Linked DNA regions of Homo sapiens: all the other regions are linked to region 1. The links come from fine-mapping of genetic effects on gene expression. A gene starts in region 1. Each other region holds a variant in brackets. All regions are shown on one strand. Distances are from middle to middle. Region 1 holds the start of FXYD5 (FXYD domain containing ion transport regulator 5). Region 2 overlaps LOC105372379 (a long non-coding RNA gene). Region 3 has its middle 23 kb from the start of FXYD5.

Region 1 (5,657 bases):
CCCTCGCCTCCCTGGTGAAACCTTAGGGGTCCTGTCTGCTGGTGGAATCACTCAGCTTTGGCTGCATCAATCCATAATTCTGAAAGTGTTTTCAGCTATGCCAATGCCTGGGAACCCTTCTTCTAGTCCCCCTCCCCGCCCATCCCTGTGGGATGGGAAAGTCAGTTTAGTCTAGTGAGCCCAGGTGCTAGGGTGAGCCTGGGCCCTGGTTTCAAATCCTGCCCCCAACAACTTTCTTGCTGTGTGACCTGGAACAAGTGAAGTCCTTTCTCTGAGCCTCAGTTGCTTCATCTGCAAAGCAGGGATAATAACTGAATCTACTTCACAGGGCTGTAGATAGGGTGAAATGACACAGAGCAGGGAAAGGGTCTCCCACACGGCTTACCATGTGGTCAGTGCTGGATAACTCCACTGCCCCCATCCTGGTCCTGCCTCTGTACCCTCCAGCCTGGACATCCCAGCAGCCTCCTTCTTGGGCTCCCTGCTCCTGTCTCCGCCCCCACAGTCTGTTCCAACCTGCAGCCAGAGGGAGCCTGGGACCACCTGAGTCAGGTCGGGGCCCGCCTGGTTCAGAGCCCTGCCCTGGCTGCACTTCACTCCACATAAAAGCAAAGCCCTCACGTGGCCCGTAAGTCCTCCTCCATCTGGTCCCATCACTTCTCTGTCCTCTCGTCATCCCACTCTGCCCCTTCTCATCCCAACCCAGCCACCCCACCTGCCTGCTATTCTTAAAACACACCAGACAACACTCAGCCCCCAGACACCTGCAAAGCTCATTCCCTCATTTCCTCCAAGTGTTTGTTGGTCCAAATGTCACCTCCTCAGTGAGGCCCTCCCTGACCACCCAGTTTAAACAATCCTCATTACCTCTACTTTTCTGCAAGCACGTATCACCTCCTAGCACACGATATAATTTACTAACTTGTCTCTCTCCACTAGAGTGTGACCTCTTGTTTTATTCAGTGCTGTTTCCCCAGTGCACAGAATATCTAGCACATAGTAGGTGCTCAATAAATATTTGTCAAATGACTGAACGAGTATATGAAAATCATTTTATGAAGGAGAAATGAGGGCGCCTTCAGTGGGGCATGCACCCTGGGTTCTGGGGGCAGGCAGGACAGTTGTTTTCTCAGCTCCTCCACCCATTCTCCTCTGACACAGGGCACTTCCCTTCGCTGAGCCTCAGTTTCCTCATCAGTAAAATGGGCAAGACAACAGGTGTGACTGACTGTCAGAGGCAAAGCCTAACTGACCTAACACACACCACACCTGCCACACAGAAAGAACGATCAATACCCCCCTGTGGTTCCCATCTTTCAGGAGACACTTTCCAGGCAAGGCTGAGATGTTGCCAACTCTTTGGACTAACCCCAGCTCAACAGCTTTGCCTAACTGTGTAATGCCTGGGGACTCTGGGAGCCTAGGTTTCCTGGCTGCTGAGTAGAAAACCGACACCAATCTCCCCGCCAAATGAAACTCAGTGAGTTCTTCTTGGAGGTGAAATTGGAGGATGCTCAGCAGGACAGGCCCTGGCCAGACTCACTGGAAGCAGCCACCCGGGTCTGAGGTGTCCAAAGAGGGTGTAACGTCGCCCCGCCATAGGGATCCCCACTTCCTGGTGCCGGCTCAGCGGGAGGGTGACAGGGCAGGACAACGTTCACACGGGCCAACCACCCACCCCGCAGCACACGTGGGGCTGGCCTGGCTGGGGGCTCTGGGGCAGGGTGGAGGCCAGAGATGGGTCTTACCTCTGGTGGGGAGAATCAGGCCAACGATGGTGAGAAGACACAGGCGACCAGAGGGCGACATCTGTGGGACCAGGCGATGCTGGGGTCAGCCATGATGTCAGTGAGACCGACCTCCGGCAGCCCCCGGGGATCCTGCAGCCCTTTCCCTGCCCTGAGCAAAAACCTCTGGCTTCCAAGACCCCCTGCCAGGGGCTGACGGCTGGCCTCAGGGGAAAGGGGAGGGTCTTAGGTGGGGATACCAAACCGTCACCCTGCTTCCTTCCCCTGCAGGTCCCCAAAGAAAACAAGAAGCATGAGATAAATGGGTCTTCCAGCAGCTGCAAGGGCCGGCGGGCACTCCTGAAGCAGAGAAACACCTCCCTGCGCCTTCCGCCAGGCGCTTATCCCTCACTGGGACTGACGCAAGGAGGGGACTGGGGCAGAGGAGTAGATAGGAGGCCTCTTCCCTCCCCCAGGGGCCCAGAGCCCGGGAGTCGGCGAGGAGGGGAAGGAGGAAGAGTGAGTAACGCCTCCCGCGCTCAGAGGAAAAAGTGAGTTGGTGTCAGGGGCCGCCTTGCAGGGATGGCGCGCTGGAGAGACCTAAGAGGCACTGGTCCGAGGGGGGTGGCAGAGAGCTGGGGAGACTGAGGCAGGCGGGCGGGAGCGAGGCAGAGCGGCCCACTGTAGCCCAGGAGAGGAGGCAGAGAGATGTGGGCGTGGATGGGGGGCGGAGAGGAGCGGAAGGGGTCAAACCCCTACCCACCTGAGCCCGGCCCGTGGGCAGAGGGGCAGCGGATGGAGGTGGCGCACGAGAGGGACTTACGTCGGAGCTGGGGGTCCTAAGCCGGCAGCCTCGTGGAGAGAGGGACGCGGCGGTGGCTGCTGCGTCCAGGCGGAGGGTGTGGCCAGGGGAGCGCGAGCGGGCGGGGACCCAGACGGGCTCAGTCATTTCCTCTTGGGTTTCCTGGCTTCAGAGCCCGGGGTGGGAGCAGGAGGGGGAATCGCTGAGGGCGACGGGGGGCAGGGGTGAGGGCATAGTGGTGGGAGAGGGTGGGAACGGGGATGGGGCAGGCAGGTCTAGGGTGAGTGGACGCCTCTGAGAGAGCAGGGGGAGAAACGGGAGGGCTCTATTCTGGGGTCGCTGGAGGAAGGGAAAGGACAAATCCGGAGGTGTTGAGGAAGGAGAAGGGATTGAAGGGGGGCATCTCGGGGCACTGGGGGAGGAGAATGAAGAGGGGGCGACTCCGGGCACGCAGGGGAGAGCTACCCCAGGTTCAGTTCTGCACCCCTACCCACACCGTGCCCCACAGATGAGAACACACAGACAGAACAGAGGAAAAAACCAAATGCACATTTATTAAGCTCAAGACATGGACACTGAGGGGCCAGGGGGACGGATCTTCGGGGATGAGACAAGGAGGTGCAGGGGGGCCATACACGGGGATGCTGGGGGTGCTGGGCCGGGATGGACTCCCGGATCCCAGGAGCTGGAGGCCTGAGGCCCTGGGTCTGGGGTGCAGACGGGCTCTTTGGGGGATCGTCATTGCCAAGGCCTGGAGAGGGACAGCAGGGTGCAGCGGCTCCAGCCTTGGGGTGGGTGGGGCGGCTCATTCCGGGGAGCGCTCCCGGCGCGCGGCTGGGTCCCCACCGCCTCCACCCGGTCCTCAGGCTCCCGCGCTCAGGCAGGGTCGGCAGCGGAGTTTCCTCGGGAAGGTGTTACACGCCGCCGCCACCAGGGGCTGGGGAGAGAGGGGGTGCGTGAGCCACTAGAAAGGTGGAAACTGCCTCCCTCCCCACAGCTCGTTGGCTCTCCATTCCCCGGCACCATGGAAGCCAGACCCCAGGGACTGTCACCCCAGAGCTAACACTGAGGAGCTGTCTTGCCTCCCACACTCTAATGTCTTGTTCCCTTGGGGACACCTCCTGGCTGCTGTCATGGAGAGAAACACCTGCTACGGGGCTGGCGACCCCAGACCCAACCTGGGCTTTTGGGGCTATCCGCCTGCCAGAAAGGGAGTCCCCATCTCCCTTCCCATTTGCAATCTCCTCCTACACCCTCACTCCTTTCCTACACTCCCTGTCCTGAACATTTGGATACAACGGGAAGTCCCCCATTCCCCACCCGCTGCAGACCATCATTCACCTAGGATAGACCAGAAACCTGTGCAAAGTCTTCAGCTGTGCCCCAGGTGACAAGGCCAACCCCCATGCTGCCCCACGCATCCATAAGTGCCTTGTTCATGTTTTAAAACTCATTAAATAAACATGAAACAGGCCAAGCGCTGTGGCTCACGCCTGTAATCCAAGCACTTTGGGAGGCCGAGGATGGCGGATCGTTTGAGGTCAGGAGTTTGAGACCAGCCTGGCCAAAATGGTGAACCACCATCTCTGCTAAAGATATAAAAATTAGCCGGGTGTGGTGGTGTGTGCCTGTAGTCCCAGCTATTTGGGAGGCTGAGGCAGGAGAATCGCTTGAACCCAGGACGCAGAGGTTGCAGTGTTGTAATAAGCTGAGATCGTGCCACTGCACTCCAGCCTGGGCAACAGAGGACACAGCAAGACTCTGTCTCAAAAAAAAAAAAAAAAAAAAAAAAAAAAAGGAACGTGAAACAAATTCCACACCAAATACTTCTCAACCATTGAATAACCCGTGTCCCCCTCCCGCATTTTTTTTTTTTTTTTTTTTTTTTTTAGTTATAAGAACTTTATAAGAGACACAGAAATTCCCATTTCTGTTCTTTTACAAGTCTCCAGAAAGGCTGCATTTCCACTAAAAACAGGTCAAGTTATTTTTACATAATTAAAATTAACAGCCTCAAAGAGATCAGTCTTTCGTTGACATGCTTGCCCTGCATCCCTCTCGCTCTCCCTTTACACTTTCCATGCTTACACCCATTCTCCCTCCTCCACCCTCCACGCCCTCCTCCTCCCATCCTCCTCCCCTTCCTTCCTGGGCTCCTCCTTCCCACATTCTCCCCAACACCTCCGTCCTCTCCACTCTCTCCCCTCCTGTTCTTCCCAGCTTTCTTCTCCATCCTCACATTCCCTGCATCCCATATGTTCTTTTCCAATGTGAATTCTAAAATCTGCATTCTATTCATCTCTCTTTTTGTTATTTTGATGCAACTATTCAGAAACCTTCCCTCCCTCCCTCTGTCCCGCTTCCTCGGCTATTTCATCCTGGATCTGCCTGGCTGAACGATCAAGTCTGGAAAGCCTCTCCCCGTCTTCCTCAGTGCTCCCTCTCTCTCCCTCCTGATTGACAGAGCTCCTCCCACATGGGGCCCTTCTCTTCACAGGCCTGTGTCTTCCTCTCCTGGCAAATCAGCTTGTCCTGGCTTTTATAGGCTTGAGCATTTGTTTCTGGGAATCTCTGTGGACTCTGGGACATGTCACATCCCACAGCCTCCCCACGGTTTAGCATCATCTTTCTTTTCCCTCCCTCCCTCCCTTCCTTCCTTCATTTCTTCCTTCCTCTTTTTTTTTTTTTTTTTTTTTGACAGTCTCACTCTATCACCCAGGCTGGAGTGGAGTGGCACAACCTCAGCTCATTGCAACCTCCACCTCCCAGGTTCAGGTGATTCTCTTGCCTCAGCCTCCTGAGTAGCTGGGATTACAGGTGCGCACCACCATGCCCGGCTAATTTTTGCATTTTTAGCAGAGACGGTGTTTCACCATGTTGGCCGGGCTGATCTCGATCTCCTGACCTCAGGTGATCTGCCTGCCTCAGCCTCCCAAAGTGTTGGAATTACAGGCATGAGCCACCGCGCCCAGCCAGGTTTAGCATCTTTCATCTGCGGAATTTCCTCAGCTTCCTAGGGAATTGTCCTGTGATATCTGCAGGCACCACCCCCCCTCCGCCCCCTGCGTCCAGTCCATCCCCGCGACTTCCCTTCTGAGGGTTCCCTTCCCTGCCCCACCTAAAACTCT
Region 2 (5,657 bases), 55 kb before region 1:
TGCCCACCTCAGTCTTCCCAAGTACTGAGATTACAGGTGTGAGCCCCCAGGCCCGGCCTAAAATGCTTTATTTCTTGTCTCTCCTTTCTTCATTCCTTTCCCCCTTCCTTTCCTCTTTTTCCTTTATTTCTTCATCTCTTTTATTCAAGGCAATAAACATGATATTAGCAATTGCTGATGTTAGAATGGGCTCACAAGTATCCCAAGTCTTCCTCGCCCAGCCTCTGTTGATTCTCAAGTACATACCACGATTCCCCCCATTTCACGGACATGGTGGGAATGCCAGGGCGGCTCCTCCCAGCTGAGTCCCCAGTGCATTTGGTTTGCTCCTGTCACTGACACCCGTGGTGTTGTGGCCACTGAGGCTGAAATCCAAAAGAGGGCACCAGAAATGCATCGAGAAAGTGCCCACCCTTGAGGAAATCTGATGTTCGATTTGTCCTTACTCTGCAGTGATCTTTTTTGGTGGGAGGTTCCTGGAGGTGTCCCCATTGCCTTTCATGGGGTCTCCTCTCTGTGCCTAAGTTTCCCCCTATGTAAAATGGGGTTAGCACTGGTACCTACCTCATTCTTATTGTTGGGAGGATTAAACTGTAAGGAGTGCTTAGAACAGTGCTTTGGCAGCATGTGCGTCACAAATGTTTCCTGTTGTTGGTGGCGCTGTTGTTATTAGACCCTGGCTTTGGAAGCTGGGTCAGACACCTAGCAAAACCCTCTGCCTGGGTGTGCCCACGGGGACTGTTCTGGGCCGCAAGCTTCCAAGCTGAAGCCTGCCCTGCAGGCAGGATGTCCGGCCTCCAACCGCAGCCTCCAAATCTTGATCAACAACTCTGATTTTATTGCCTCTCTGCCCAGATATCATCAGTGGGGGCATGGACGCTTACATGAATGCTTGGGGTCTCATAAGGGGCACTCTGCAGATTCCAAGATTCACAGCTTCTGGCCTCATGTCCTGACTGCCCCCCACTCCCAGCCCCTGGTATGCTGGTGTTGCCACAGTGTCCAGCCACCTATCTCTCCTCCACCACCTCTTCCTTCCTCCAGAGGCAAGCAGTAGTCACATTTCTGTTGTCATGTGTCTCTCACAATTTCCACATTTTTTTTTTTTTTTCAGAGACAGGGTCTTGTTCTGTTGCCCAGGCTGGAGTGCAGTTGTGCAATCATAGCTCACTGAAGCCTTGAACTCCTGGGCTCAAACAATCCTCCCACCTCAGCCTCCTGAGTAGCTAGGACTACAGGCATGCACCACCATGCCCTGCTAATTTTTAATTTTATTTATTTATTTATTTTTTCATTGAGACAGAGTTTCGCTCTTGTCGTCCAGGCTGGAGTGCACTGGCGCGATCTCGGCTCACTGCAATCTCTGTCTCCCATGGTTCAAGCGATTCTCCTGTCTCAGCTTCCTGAGTAACTGGGATTACAGGTACCTGCCACCATGCCTGGTTAATTTTTGTATTTTTAATAAAGACAGGATTTCACCACGTTGTCCAGGCTGGTCTCGAACTCCTGACCTCAGGTGATCCACCTGCCTCAGCCTCCCAAAGTGCTGGGATTACAGGCATGAGCCACCGTGCCCACCTAATTTTTAATTTTTTTTTTTTTGTAGAGACAGGGTCTCACTATGTGGCCCAGGCTGGTCTCAAACTCCTAACCTCAAGTGATCCTCCCACGTTGGCCTCCCACATGGTGGGATTACAGGCGTGGGCCACCACGCCCAGCTGCCTCTGCATGTCTTAAGGAGATGTTTATGCCACTGATTTGTGATTGTCAACGTTACCACAGAGCCCTTCTCTGTTGACTTCCTGCCCTGGAAGGGGAGGAGTGGATTCAGACCACTCCCCTTCTGATGTAATGATGCCACGCAACCTCCCTGGTCTCAGGGTCCACATCTGTGAATGAGAATAACAGTATCTATCTCAGAAGGTTGTAGTGAGGAGTGAACAAATTCATTCACACGAAGCACTGAGAACGGGCTTTGCCCACAGTACAGGCAGTGTGTGAACTCTCACTGTTGTTCATAACTATGATCATCATCACTTTTATTTTATTTTATTTTATTTTATTTTATTTTTTGACACGGAGTCTCACTCTGTCACCCGGGCTGGAGTGCAGTGATATGATCTCAGATCACTGCAACCTCTGCCTCCCGGGTTCAAGTGATTCTCCTGAGTAGCTGGGATTACAAGCATGCGCTGTCACGCCTGGCTAATTTTTGTATTTTTGGTAGAGATGGTGTTTCACCATGTTGGCCAGGCTGGTCTCAAACTCCTGACCTCAGGTGATCGATCCACCTGCCTCAGCTTCCCAAAGTGCTGGGATTACAGGCGTGAGCCACCGCACCTGGCCCCATCATCTAGATTCTACAATTGTTAACATTTTTCTGTATTTACTTTATTACATATCTATCAGTCCATTCCTCTATCAAGTCATCTGATTTTTTAAAAATGTATTTTTAAAGAAGGTTAAAGAATTTTAAAGCAGACATCAGTACTCTTTACCCTTAAACATTTCAGGATTCATATCACCAACTGGAGTTCAATGTTTGCAGTTATCTTTGAGATTTTATAAATTTGCATGCAATGAAATGCACACATATGAAACATCCATTTGCTGAATTTCTTAGTATTGTCATTATTATTTAGAGATGCGCTCCCACTCTGTACCCCAGACTGGAGTGCAGTGGTGTGATCATAGTTTACTGCAGCCTTGACCTCCTGGGCTCAAGCGATCCTTCTGCCTCAGCCTTGAAAGTAACTGGTACTACAGAAATATGCCACCACGCCTGGCTAATTTTTTTTTTTTTT[C/TC]TCCACAGGGTGAGTTCTATGCCTGGGGAATTAAAACAATTTTTTTTTTAAAAGAGATAAGGTCTTTCTGTGTTGCACAGACTGGTCTTGACCTCCTGGCCTCAAGTGATCCCCATGCATCAGCCTCCTCAGTAGCTGAGATTACAGGCATGAGCCACTGTTCCCATCTCCATTTGCTGAGTTTTGACCAATGAATGCACTTATGTAATAAGTATACGCTTCTGCTTTAGACTACAAGCCCCTGTTAAGATAAAGAACATCTCCGTGACCCCTGCAAAATCCCCTTATGCCCCTTCCCAGATAATCCCCACCTCCACTCCATCCCCAAAGGCAATCATGGTTTTGATATTTTTATACCTTTACTTTAAATTTTCAGGATGGATGACAGGTGTGTGCTGGGAGGGACCTTAGTTAAATTTTGTGATTGGCGGCTAGAATTGAAAAAAAACAAAAACAAAAACAAAAAAACAAAAAAATACCTCATTGCGGCCAGGCGTGGTGGCTCATGCCTGTAATCCCAGCACTTTGGGAGGCCAAGGTGGGCGGATAGCTTGAGGTCAGGAGTTTGAGACCAGCCTGGCCAACATAGTGAAACCCCATCTCTACTAAAAATACAAAACTTAGCCCAATGTGGTAGTGGGCACCTGTAATCTTAACTACCTGGGAGGCTGAGGCAGGAGAATTGCTGGAACCAGGAGGTTGTAGTGAGCTGAGATGGCACCACTTTACTCCAGCCTGGGCAACAGAGCAAGACTCCATCTTAAAAAAAAAAAAGAAAACCTCGTTGCTCCCTCCTGTGGAATATGGATACCTAATTAACATGATCACATACAGCAATGACTGGCTTGGAGGGGAGGAGGCATCCTCAGTGCTGAAAGGTGGGACAATGTCCACTGAGGGCTCTGGTCCTAGCACTGAATGAGCCAGGCTCTTTCAATTCCTGGATAAGCACTTGTTCACCCATTGTATGTGGACCACTTACCCTGGCTGCCTCATGTAGGATGCTGTTGGCTGCAAGTAAGAGAAGAATAAATTCCAAACATCTTAAAACAATAAGGATGCCAGGCACAGTGGCTCGTGCCTGTAATCCCAGCACTTTGGGAGGCCGAGGCAGGCAGATCGCGAGGTCAGGAGATTGAGATCATCCTGGCTAACACGGTGAAACCCCGTCTCTACTAAAAATCCAAAAAAATAACTAGGCATGGTGGCGGTCGCCTGTAGTCCCAGCTACTCGGGAGGCTGAGGCAGGAGAATGGCGTGAACTCAGGAGATTGAGATCATCCTGGCTAACACGGTGAAACCCCGTCTCTACTAAAAATCCAAAAAAATAACTAGGCATGGTGGCGGTCGCCTGTAGTCCCAGCTACTCGGGAGGCTGAGGCAGGAGAATGGCGTGAACTCAGGAGGTGGATCTTGCAGTGAGCCGAGATCGCGCCACTGCACTCCCGCCTGGGGGACAGAGCCAGACTCCATCTCAAAAAAAAAAAGCAATAAGGACACGTATTATTTTACAGAACTGCTGGTCCCCCAAAGGCGGGGAGGTTCTCCAGGGGTCAATGCATCAGTTGAATGATGTTCTTATAGACTCAGGCTCCTCAGCATGTGGGCAATGTCATCCCTCACGGTGGTAACGTGGCTGCCACAGCCCCAGCCATCATTTCCTATAGGTGCAAAGCATCACAACCGTATACTTCCTCTTGCTAAAATCCTACTCTACCCATTTCCTTTCTGTATTTTCAGTGTTTAGCCTCTCTGATTCTGCTCTTACTACTAACTCATGAGATTTCAACTCATGGCGACTATAGGTGCTCCGAAGTGCTAATGAAAGAAATTGCAGAAAGAAAAGAAGAAAAATGATGTCTTTCTCTGTGGCTTCAGAATCATCCTCAGCATCATAAAACTCTGTTTGCAAATATTCTTTGCAGGCCGCAGGGACTTCAGAGATCATCAGTATGTCTTGTCAAAGAAACTTTAACATTCCAGCATCTGTGATTCTGGGACTAATACTTAAATTGCATGTAGATTCTGAAAAGGATAAATATTTGTGAATTTTTTGTTAAACCAGAGGAATATTTTTACTACCCCCTCTTCTTCAACGTGGATGAAAGAGAAAGCAAAAACACGTGATGCTGTTAGAACTCTGCTCTAGACTAAGAGTTTGAGAGCCCAGCTTAAGCCAGCAAATGCCTCCTCACACTGCCACATTCTCTCTGCGAGGAAAAGAAAAAGTTTATTTCTCTTACATTATTATTTTTTTCTTTTTTTGAGATAGGATCTCGCTGTGTCACACAGGCTGGAGTGCAGTGGTGTGATTATGACTCACTGCAGCCTTGATCTCCCAGGTTCAGGTGATTCTCCCTCCTCAGCTTCCTTAGTAGCCAGGAATACAGGCACACACCGCCACGCCTGGCAAATTTTGTGTATCTTTTTAAAATTTTTTTGGAGATGGGGTCTTGCTATGTTGCTCAGGCTGGTCTCGAACTCCTGGGCTCAAGCGATCCTCCTGCCTTGGCCTCCCAAAATGCTGGGATTACAGGTGTGAGCCACCACACCTGGCCTCCTACAGTACTTTTCTTTTTCTTTTGAGATGAAGTCTCACTCTGTCACCCAGGCTGGAGTGTAGTGGTGCAATGTCCACTCACTGCAACCTCCGCCTCCCAGGTTCAAGTGATTCTCCTGCCTCAGCTTCCTGAGTAGCTGGGACTACAGGTGCACACCACCATGCCCAGCTAATTTTTGTATTTTTAAAAATAGAAATGGGGTTTCATCATGTTGTCCAGGCTGGTCTCGAACTCCTGACCTCAAGTGATCTGCCCATCTTGGCCTCCCAAAGTGCTGGGATTACAGGCCTGA
Region 3 (5,657 bases), 24 kb before region 1:
CAATCAAAGCCCTAACTTTAACAAAAAAGACCCTGTGAGGTTAGAAGTTCAACTTTTGTTGGATTAGACTTTAGCTTTGGTTTTCAGAAATCTCAGCCCTATGACTATGGGAAATACAAGTTTCTTTCAGGGCCACCACTCACAGAAGCTTTCAAGTCCCTTATACAGAACCAGAGCTGGGAAGGTAAAGTTCTGAGTGCCATCATTCCACCTCAGCTCCAAGTTTTCCAGCACAGTCAGCAGCAATGAGCCAACCCCATTACACTTCTTATTTTCACTAAACTGTTCTGTGGAAGCAAATACTCAGTCACCCAGAGCCTTTCCTTCTATAGAAACCTAATATAGGAAGCTACTGGTGATGGTCTGAGTGACTGCCTTGCCACTCCATGCTATGACCTATCAGTGTACCCTTCATTACTGAAAACAAGGTCATTAATGGCTTTCAATTTAATTAGAGAACCAATTCTAGAAAAACCAGATCTCGGCCGGGCGCGGTGGCTCACGCCTGTAATCCCAGCACTTTGGAAGGCCGAGGCAGGTGGATCACAAGGTCAAGAGATTGAGACCATCTTGGCTAATACGGTGAAACCCCGTCTCTACTAAAAGTACAATAAAATTAGCTGGGCGTTGTGGCAGGCGCCTGTAGTCCCAGCTGCTGGGGAGGCTGAGGCAGGAGAATGGCGTGAACCCGGGAGGCGGAACTTGCAGTAAACCAAGATCACGCCACCACACTCCAGCCTGGGTGACAGAGTGAGACTCCATCTCAAAAAAAAAAAAAAAAGAGAAAGAAAAACCAGATCTCATTGTTAAGATTCTGGCCTTCTGGAACCACTCTTAGTACCAAATTCTGTATCAGCAAAGCTGAACCTTTAATACATATGTGGGCGTACACACACACAGTTTGCTACACGAATTTGACCTTCAACAATTGTAGTTGCTAGTGAAGCTCTCTTTGTAGGGCTGTTGTCTTGATGCTGGAACTTGAAACCCACAGGTGCAGGAAGTCAGGAAGGGAAGATTGAGGTAAGATTGGGGAGAGCACGGAACAAGTTAGAACCCACAAGCACAAGCTGGAGTCCACAAGGATGGACTGAATCCTATGTTAATTCTTTTTCTTTTTCTTTTCTCTTCTTTTTTTTCTTTCTTTCTTTCTTTTTGTTTTTCTTTTTGAGACAGAGTTTCACTCGGTCGACCAGGCTGGAGTGCAGTGGTGTGATCTCTGCTCACTGCAACCTCTGCTTCCCAGGTTGAAGAGATTCTCTTGCCTCAGCCTCCCGAGTAGCTGGGATTGCAGGCATGCAACATCACGCCTGGGTAATTTTTGTATTTTTAGTAAAGATGGAGTTTCACCATGTTGACCAGGCTGGTCTCGAACTCCTGACCTCAAGTGATCCACCCGCCTCGGCCTCCCAGAGTGCTGGAATTACAGGCATGAGCCACTGCACCCAGCCCCATGCTAATTCTTGTTGTCTATGACCTTGGTGCTGTGGGTGTCTTGCTAGAGTCATGGTCCTTCATCACGGGGCTGAGCACACATGTCTGGCCCAACAACTGGGGAAGCTGAAGGAGGATCCAGCGGAAGGTGAAACAGTTGCAGCCCTGGTTGCTGCCTTATGCCAATGAGATGAGCTGTCTGATAAGTGACAACTGGTATAAGCTGCGAAATGTCCGTGGCTTCACCTCTACCCAGCAGATCCCTGACAAGAATGTCTCTTGTGGTTCACCCTAACCAGAAAACACAGGCATCTAGGGAAAAAGATTCTGGGAAGTGTAGTTTAACCTGGCCAAGGTGATACATTACAAAGCCACCTCAGGCGATGTTTCAAACCCTGTTTAACCTCCCACCATCAGCAGCTGGAGTCCTTGACTCAATAACTTCTTGAGAAGCCAACAGACTTTACCGAAGCAATCATTGGAGGTCATCCTCAACACCTCCAAGAAAAGCACAATCTAGTGTCAGATGAGAAAAGGCAGATTCCTTCCAGTTAATGTGATCTGGCCTCAATTTCAAAACAAGAACCTTGACAGAATTGTACTCAGGAGGCTAGCTGAATTACAACATCCACTCCATTAGCTCCTGGCAAGATATCTCCCCTGATGTAAGGGTGGAGGAGGAGGAGGCTTCACTTCAGACCATGATGCCACAGAAAAAGATGTCTTTTGCCAGAAAGGGATTGGGTAGCATTGGAGAGCATTGGAGGCGCTGTTGAAGTGATGTCTGGAAGTCTCTATCAAGTCTGAGAATCAGTGCTGCTGTCCTCTGGAAGTTTCAAAAACGACCAGTTTTTTTTTTTTTTTTGAGATGACGTCTCACTCTTGTCACCCAGGCTGGAGTGCAATGGTGCAATCTTGGCTCACTGCAACCTCCGCCTCCTAGGTTCAAGTGATTCTCTTGCCTCAGCCTCCCGAGTAGCTGGGATTACAGGCATGTGTCACATGCCTGGCTAATTTTTGTATTTTTAGTAGAGATGGGATTTCACCCTGTTGGCCAGGCTGGTTTCGAACTCCTGACCTCAGGTGATCCACCTGCCTTGGCCTCCCAAAGTGTTGAGATTACAGGTGTGAGCCACTGTGCCTGGCCAACCCCCAGTCTTAACAGTTATCTTTTCCTTTTACATTGGAGTAAAAATGACTTGAGGCTCCATCTCCTGACTTGGTGGCAGCTCCCCATCCTTCTCAGCATCCTAATCAACAAATTCCTGAGGGCAATTATTTTCCTTGATGGTATTTGGGGTGTCACGGACTCAGCTAAAAGACCACATTTCTGTGTCCTTTGCAATTAGAGGTAGCAATCCGAAGGAAGTAGAAATCTTTGGGAGGGAGTCTTGGGAAGTC[C/T]CTTTAAAAGGAGCTGAATCACCTAGTGGTGCCTTTCCTTTCTCACTTTTTTTTCCCCTTCTTGATTTTTTTCCTGGAATGTGGCATGATGGCTGAGGCTTCTGCAGCTATTTTGTGATCTTGAGGCTTCAGGCCACATGCTTAGGGTGGCAGAGCAGCAAGTCTGGTCCCTTATGATATTAGGGATCCTCTTTCCCAGCCTTGCACTATGTACTTCAGAGTTCTGCTATGTGAGAGAGGAATAAATAACCTGTTTAAGTCGTTGTTTCTGGCTGTCTCCTGAAGCTGAATACAGTTTCTGCCTCTAGAACTCTTGCTATGTGAGATAATAAATGTCCTTTGCAGTAAACAATATTACTGCCCATCAATACCCAGTTCCCTTCTGATGTGGTTTGGCTGTGCCCCCACCCAAATCTTATCTTGAATTTTCACATATTGTGGGAGGGGCCCAGTGGAAGGTGGTTGAATCATAAGGGCAGGTCTTTCTCTTGCTGGTCTTGTGATGGTGAATGAGTCTCATGAGGTCTGAGGGTTTTAAAAAGGGGAGTTTCCCTGCACAAGCTCTCTTCTCTTGTCTGCCACCATGTGAGACGTGCCTTTCACCTTCTGCCATGATTGAGGCCTCCCCAGCCACGTGGAACTGTAAATCCAATAAAGTTCTTTCTTTTGTAAGTTTCCCAATCTCAGATATGTCTTTATCAGCAGCATGAAAACGGATTAATATACCTTCCTATAAGAAGATTGTAATGTTCTGTGCTGTTGAACTCAAATGTGCCCGTGTGATTTGCTTTCGATAATGACAATGTGAGCAGAAATGAGGTGTGTCCCTTCCTGACAGAGGCTATAAGAGCCAGTGTGTGTCTCACCTTGTTCCTTGTTCTGCCTTCTGCCTGCTATGATAACCAGAAACATTTCTTTTCTTTTATTTTCTTTTCTTTTAGACAGGGTCTCACTCTGGAGTGCAGTGGCGTGATCTCAGCTCACTGCAACCTCCATCTCTTGGGCTCAAGCGATCCCCCCACCTCACCCCTCAAATAGCTGGGACCACAGGCGCAAGCCACCATGCCCAGCTTATTTTTATTTAGTTTTTGAGACGGAGTGTCACTCTGTCACTCTGTCACCCAGGCTGGAGTGCAGTGGCTTGATCTCGGCTCACTGCAACCTCCGCCTCTCAGGTTCAAGTGATTCTCCTGCCTCAGCCTCCTGAGTAGCTGGGATTACAGGCATGCACCGCCATGCCTGGCTAATCTTTCTATTTTTAGTAGAGATGGGGTTTTGACATGTTGGCCAGGCTGGTCTCAAACTCCTGACCTCAGGTAATCCGCCTGCCTCGGCCTCCCAAAGTGCTGGGATTACAGGTGTAAGCCACTGCACTTGGCCTAATTTTTGTATTTTTTGTAGAGACAAGGTTTCACCATATTGGCCAGGTTGGTCTCAAACTCCTGAGATCAAGCGATCTGCCTGCCTCGGCCTCCCAAAGTGCTGGGATTACAGGTGTGAGCCACTGCGCCCAGCCCAGGCTTCCCCATCATCTTGGGTCCCATCCTAGCTCCTAGCTGAACCGTGAGGGACATGTAGTGAGAGCGAGAAACAAACCTTTGTTGTAAGCCACGAGATTTTGAGATTATTTGTGACTGTCAATTTTAAGCAAAATTGGTCTGGCTTGGCATAAGGAATTAGAGGTTGACAAGCTCTTTGGAAAGGCTGGTGGAGTGCGCTCTAAGTGAAGACTGCAAATGATTCCACAACATGAGCAGACTGACTTGCCCAAGGAGCTTCTCCCTCCACCCTAATCAGGAGCCCCCATTGTACACGTCAGCTTCAGCATCTGGCTGCTCTGTCTGAGATCCAGGGATCAGAAAATCATCACCACCCAGGACAGAACTGCCTATTTGTTTTCAATGTTCTTGTTTTGTATTGAGTTATAATTTACTGTGTTAGTTCATTTTGCATTGCCATAAAAGAATACTTGAGACAGTAATTTATAAGGAAAAGAGAATTCTTTGGCTCATGGTTCTTCAGGCTGTACAAGCACAGCACCAGCATCTGCTTGGCTTTTGGTGAAGAGACCTCAGGAATCTTTTACTCATAGCAGGAAGTGAAGGGATAGCAGGCGTGTCCCATGGCAAGAGCAGGAGTAAGACAGAGAGAGGGGGAGGTGCCAGGCTCTTTAAGCAACCAGCTGTCACGTGAGCTAAGAGGGCAAGAACTCACGCATGACCATGGGGAGGACACCAAGCCATTCATGAGGGATCAACCCCCATGACCCAATCACCTCCCACCAGGCCCCCCTCCATCATCGGGGATCACATTTCAACATGAGATTTGGAGGGGTCACACATCCAAATATCACTTACACATAGTAAAGTGTACAAATCTTTTTTTTTTTTTTCCTTTGAGACAGGGTCTTGCTCCATCACCCAGGCTGGAGTCCAGTGGCGCGATCTCGGCTCACTGCAACCTCCGCCTCCCACGTTCAGGCGACTCTCCTGCTTCAGCCTTCTGAGGAGCTGGGATTACAGGCATGCACCACCATGCCTGGCTAATTTTTGTATTTTTAGTAGAGACGGGGTTTCACCATGTTGGCCAGGCTGGTCTCGAACTCCAACCTCAAGTGATCCACCTGCCTTGGCCTCTCAAAGTGTTGTGATTACAGGCATGAGCCACGGCACCGAGCCCTCAAAACTTAAACGTACAATTTGATCATTCTGATCAATATATGGACATGTAATCTGCACCACTGTCATCAGGGCACAGAACATTTCAATCCTTCCAGAAAGTTCTTTCATGCCCCTTTGCAGTCTCTCCCCACCTCCTGCTGA

Evidence for each region.
Region 2: its variant is fine-mapped to the expression of FXYD5 in platelets (CEDAR, PIP 0.95).
Region 3: its variant is fine-mapped to the expression of FXYD5 in B cells (Schmiedel 2018, PIP 0.95).

What each region holds. Positions count from the first base shown.
Region 1 is chr19:35,151,703-35,157,359 of GRCh38, reverse strand. FXYD5 (FXYD domain containing ion transport regulator 5) reads right to left here and starts at 2,625. Exons shown (of 9, transcript NM_014164.6): 1 at 2,551-2,625; 2 at 1,749-1,809. The coding sequence starts at 1,809. It overlaps FXYD7 (FXYD domain containing ion transport regulator 7), which reads right to left. Exons shown (of 6, transcript NM_022006.2): 6 at 3,058-3,466. The coding sequence ends at 3,444. RefSeq lists enhancers at 1,685-1,854, 2,793-3,657, 4,607-5,158.
Region 2 is chr19:35,207,105-35,212,761 of GRCh38, reverse strand. The region is part of intron 2 of LOC105372379 (a long non-coding RNA gene); the gene reads right to left. Among named protein-coding and RNA genes, the nearest start is that of FAM187B, 19 kb to the left of the region's middle. RefSeq lists an enhancer at 274-1,085. The variant C/TC (reference allele first, on the strand shown) is at 2,805.
Region 3 is chr19:35,175,347-35,181,003 of GRCh38, reverse strand. No RefSeq gene overlaps it. Among named protein-coding and RNA genes, the nearest start is that of FXYD5, 23 kb to the right of the region's middle. RefSeq lists a silencer at 4,997-5,153. The variant C/T (reference allele first, on the strand shown) is at 2,836.